2 separate regions of the Homo sapiens genome follow, and region 2 is linked to region 1. A link means that fine-mapping ties the variant in region 1 to the expression of a gene that starts in the linked region. Tissue or cell type: whole blood. Region 1 holds a variant in brackets; the other region holds the start of a gene. All regions are shown on one strand. Distances are from middle to middle.

Evidence for each region. PIP is the estimated chance that this variant, and not a neighbour inherited with it, causes the effect. A credible set is the group of variants that fine-mapping cannot tell apart.
Region 2: LYPD8 starts here. The variant in region 1 is the best candidate, but not a certain one, in a credible set for the expression of LYPD8 in whole blood (TOPMed, PIP 0.52).

What each region holds. Positions count from the first base shown.
Region 1 is chr1:248,813,854-248,816,613 of GRCh38, forward strand. SH3BP5L (SH3 binding domain protein 5 like) reads right to left here. Exons shown (of 7, transcript NM_030645.3): 4 at 2,681-2,760; 5 at 596-757. Among named protein-coding and RNA genes, the nearest start is that of SH3BP5L, 11 kb to the right of the region's middle. The variant T/C (reference allele first, on the strand shown) is at 1,181.
Region 2 is chr1:248,754,627-248,757,386 of GRCh38, forward strand. It overlaps LYPD8 (LY6/PLAUR domain containing 8), which reads right to left and starts at 1,133. Exons shown (of 7, transcript NM_001085474.2): 1 at 1,079-1,133; 2 at 613-760.

The DNA of each region.
Region 1 (2,760 bases):
GCTCTCATTTGCATGAGCTCTAGAGTAGAAGTGAGGTGCCTGTTCTGTGTGAGGGGCAGATGAAGAATCACAAGCCACAAACACCCCCTCGAGTTGCTGACACCTGCCCTGTGCAAGCTGAAGGTGGCAGACAGGGCCAACGGCAGAGATCCTTCCGCTCCCCAGTCCCCTTTCAGGAGCTTGGAAATGATACATAAATTATACTTCAAAACTCGAGGTGTACTGTCAGAGCTCAAAAGCAGGAAAGGGAGCAGACTCTGAAAACAGAAGCGAGGAGTCACACAGCTAAACATAATAAAATGTGAATGTTGAATCCTCAGTATCCACCAGGGATGAATTGTTTGGGTTAGTCCCACACCTGGAGGCAAACGTTCAAGAAGAGCCCGGGATGACATTCTAAGTCAGAGGGAAATGGAATATGGGAAGCAATGGAGGCCAAACAGAACAGAAAACTAGGAACAGGTTTTGCCTGAAACAGAATCAAAGTTGAAAGAAGGCTAGAATAGAGGGAAGAATGAGGAGGTGAGGTGATAAAGACATAGCAAAGGATGGACGAGAACCAGCGAAGGGGACCTGCTGGCACCGCCCGGCTCACCTTGCAGGTAGCATGGTTCAGCATCTCCTGCCACGTGGGGTCCAGTCGGTTCTTGTCAGCCATGACGCCCTGCTCAGCCACAAACACCATTTCTCGAGCAGCGTTGTGCATGCTTACGGCCCGCTCGTACCGCAGCGCTGCCTTCTGTGTCTCCTGCTGAGCCTGGGGGGAGAGGGATATCAGGATGGGGAACCCTGAGGGACCCCAGCTGCCCATGGAGACCCATAATAGACGTGAGGATAAGAGAAGGAGGAAGGCCTACTAGCAATGTCGGCTTCATTTCCCAAACTGTGCTGAGGATAAATGCCAAGGAAGCAACATTCTATAAAGAATATTTCATAAGGATATGGACTAGAAGAAATAAAAATTTTGCCAGTGGAGGGTAGATGTGTGAAATCCAGCACTCCCAAAGGCTGCTAGCCTTTTCCCCTAGGGAAAACAAAGGAAAACACAAACCATTTTAGTGTAAGGTGGTTAGCAACATAGACAGAGTCTTACAGAAAAGATGACCTTGAGACCATCAATTCCATGTTCAGCAGGCAAGCTGAAGGAAGTAATCAGACAAGTGCTCAGGGACAGTCATCA[T/C]AGCCATACCAACCAAGCAAAAAACAAAACAAACCTAACTTTTCAGTTATAGGACATCGGTTAAATAAATAATAGTACATCTAATATAAGAAAATAAGCTGGGCGCAGTGGCTTCTGCCTGTGAGCCCATCTACTTGTGAGGCTGAGGGAGGAGGATTACTTGAGCCTAGGAGTTTGAGGTTACAGTGAGCTATGATCACACCATTGCACTCCAGTCTGGGCAACAGAGCAAGACCCCATTTCTTAAAAAAATAAAATATTAATCAGTCCTTTAAAATGACGGCTTGGATGTATAGTTATTGACATGGAACCATGTCATAATGCTAATAAAAGAACAAAATAGCACATACTGTGTAATCCCATTTTGGCTGGATATACAAGGACACGAAATATGATTAATACAGCACACATGGTTATCTGTGCTGTATTAATCATATTTTTATTTTCTATACTTTATGATGCTTTCATGTCTTGGGGGACCTTGCTGGCCAAGGACAAACTGCCCCTTCCAGGGCTAATTCCTAGAAACAGTAAACTCCCCTGTAAGTGTGCCTTTCATATGCAAACCAACCACCTAATCCAAAGCCTGGATCCCCAGCTAACTCCTTTACCTACTTCTCCCCGACCAAGCCGATATTTCCTCTGCCCTAAGTCATCCCAGGGCCAGGTACTAGACAATTAGAGGCCGCCCCTATAGCCCAGGGCCTAGCAAAGTTATTCCAACTATCCACTCCTAAACTTATCCAAACTTGCCTACCCTGCCTCACCTACTCCTTTCCACGAAAACCACACTAAGGCGCTGCGCTTTGCTTTCTCCTTCACTTCTGCCTCCTGAAGGACCCTGGCTGCTTCCCCGTGTGGCCCTGCATGGCATGGATGTCCCCTCCTCTCGGGAACAAACTCTTCTTCCAAGGCAGTTGTCTGTATCTGTCACCTCACCATACAGGATGACAACAAATCCCAGGAAACAAAATGCATGAAACGTGCATGGTAGGATTTTGGGTGATTTTTGTTTCCTTCTTGTTTTATTATGTTTTTCCAATGGTGAACACATATTATTTGTTAAAAGTAATTTGTTACAGAAAAAAGGGGTGTGGGATGGGGAAAAGAGTGAGGAGTAAGCAAAGAAAAGATTCAGAAGAGAGACATGAACCAAAGGGAAGAGGAAATGGGCGCAGATGAAAACAACAGGATGTTAGAACTGACATATCTGATATACCCTAAAGCCTGATTCCTGATACACAGAAGGCACTTAAACATTAGCAGGGCTGAACTAAATATTCTCCCACAGCCACCCTCACCATTTTATAGACCATAAGCCCAGAGCCCACGTGGTAAAGGAACCTCCTGAGCCCACAGAGCTGGTTCCGACCAGCCAGGTCTAGCCCAGGGCTCTGCCCTCAGGGTCTGGTGTTTTGTCTCTCACTCCATATAGAGACAGAAGAATCCAGGGCCAGGCTCAGCACGTAGCCTTCCTCAAACGTGGTCAGCCAGCCATACCTCCTTAGCCAGCCGCCGAGCCTCATAGTAGGGCCGGGCTTTCTCGATGCAGCTCCCCAAGTGGGAACCCTGTGTATTCA
Region 2 (2,760 bases), 59 kb before region 1:
ACACACAAACACCACACACCCTACCCTGATACCCTGGTTGACTTATTAGAGATTGGTAAAAAGGAAGGGAAACCAGTCGGTCTGGGAGAAGAGGCCCATACATGATGCCAATGACCCCACCATTTAGAGATCCAAGGAGGAAAATAAAGCACATCTGGTCTGGAGCTTGTAGCAGACGTGCGCCAGCCCCTCACCCCTCCAGGCCCGGTGCACCCCTACATGCCCGGGTGCACCCCTCCAGGCCTGGAACCCCAGCTGCTTGCTTTTCTCCTCAGTGGGAAAAGAGTTTCAGGGCCATGGCCTTCTGGGAAAGGGCCTCTCAGGTCTTACAGTGTGATGGAGGAGGGGAAAGGAGAGGATGAGATGAGATGAGAAGGAGACCCCAGCAGCCCATCAAGTGCACAGATCACCTCAGCCTATGGTGAAGACCTGAAACTAGCCTCATTTTCAGGGAGAATTGATGGAGGCCCAGAGAGGTCAGGACTTGACCCAGGGNCACCTAGCAGAGAAACAGAGCCTGGGAGTGACCCCATAGCAGGACCCAGGGCCGTGCTCAACACCTCTGTGGGTAAGAGGGACCAGTGAAGCTGGGGCTCAAGGCAGGGCCCCCACCTGGGACATGAGAAGAAGTGGCATCTTAGGCCGTTTCACTAGGTACTTCCCACTGGCAAAGTTTTATTGCGGAATCTTTTCGACAGCCTGGCAGGGTCCTGCTATAATTGCTGTCATCTTCCACAGAGAAAGCTGGAGCCTAGAGAGGCTGTGAGGACACAAAACCACACAGAATGAAGAATGTCACACACAGAATGATGCACAGAACACGCACACACTACACACAAACCACACACACAGTAGCAGATGGCAAAACAACAAGAAAACTACATCCCCAGCCCACATCCTCCCTGAACTCCAGACTTCCCTCTCCTGAGCATACGACTGCCTAGGGCAATGCCAAAGGAGCAAGAGCCGCAAGAATGTCCTGGACTTGGCCGGGGAAGGACCTGAGCTGGTCCTGAATGCCCTTCCTGCGGTTTCAGCTTCTCCCAGGGCTCAGGCCCCGGCCTCGCAGTCCTCTCACCTTCTGGATCTGGCCTGGTGACTGTCCTACAGAAGGTGGTTCCCAGTAGAGGCTTAGGGCTGGTATGGGAGAGGCCTTATATAGCAGGTGGCTGTAAAATCAAAAAGCACAGCTGTCTTCTGGGGTGGGACCTCTGGGTCAGACAGGCTAAGGCTTCTGGCTCTCAGACTGTGCCCTGCCCAATAGAGCTACAGGCTGCCCAACCCTTTGGCATCTGTGCAGCTCGTGCCCTCTCTGAGACCTCTAGGAATTGGGAACAACTTTGGTCAAGGCCTGCCTTTGGCAAAATGTAAACAGGAGTAAGGTATCTTCCAGCATTGTCTGTGGCCTTCTAAGTCAATTCCATGACCTGCTAATGACAAGCACCTAACAACCTGCTAACAGTCACCATGATTAGCCCATTTATAGATGAGAAAACCAAAGCACAGAAAGAGAGCCATAAGAGATATGCTCATGGGCACACAGCCGGGGCACAGTCAGAACTCAGAGCTCCGAATCAGACTATGTGGGGTCTGTGCAACTCAGGAAAGGGCCTCAGTTTCCCACAGGCAAGTGTCTTAACCTTGTTAGATTTGAGGGTCCTCCAACCAAGATGAGTGTAAACTCACTGTGCAGCCTCATAGTGTGGTAGAGGGACCATGACGTGAAGCCCCTGCCTGCAGTGTGCTCTGCACACTGGGTGAGAGCCCACAGCAGCCATCGAGAGAGTCTTTCTGGCCAAGTGATCTGAGCAGCTACTGGTAACAGCCCAGGTCAGGTCAACTGAGGCCTCTCTGTATTAGTCAGGTTCTCTGTCCTCTAGAGAAGGTGAGTTTATATATGTATGAAGGGGAGTTCATTAAGGAGTATTGACTCACATGATCACAGGGTGAAGTCCCACAATAGGCTGTCTGTGACCTGAAGACCAAGGAAGCCAGTCTGAGTCCCAAAACCTCAAAAGTGCAGCCTTCAGTCTGTGGCTGATGGCCTGAGAGCCCCTGGCAAACCACTGGTGTAGGCCCAAGAGTCCCAAAGCCGAAGAACTTGGAGTCCGATGTTTGAGGGAAGGAAGCATCCAGCATGGGAGAAAGATGGAGACTGGGAGACTCAGCCAGTCTGGTCCTTCCTCGTTCTGCTGCCTGCTTTTATCCTAGCTGTGTTGGCAGTTGATTAGATGATGTCCACCCAGATGTAGGCTGGGAGGCTAGGCCAGTCTAGCCTTTTGACATTTTTCTGCCTGCTTTATATTCTAGCAGAGCTGGCAGCTGATCAGATGGTGCCCACCCAGACTGAGGGTGGCTCTGCCTCTGCCAGTCCACGGACTCGAGTGTTAATCTCCTTTGGCAACACCCTCACAGACACATCCAGGAACAATACTTTGCAATACTTTTCAATCCAATCATGTTGACACTCAATATTAACCCTCACACTCTCCCAGTCTCCTCACACTGTGCCATGGGTGCTCCTGGTTTTGAGTGTGGACTTGAGTTATCTTCCCTCCTCATCTTTCCACTGTGCTGACACTTTATACACACACGGTGGGGAGTGGGAGGAGCCCACTCAGCCGAGGATGCAGAGGTTGAGGGGCACACATCATACCAGTATCCCCCAGCCTGCATTTAAACCTTGCAGTTCCCTGCTCTTGAAAATACCCCTTGGGGATGGCTACGCTACCTGTGTCTCAGCTCTCTCTTCCTTCCCCA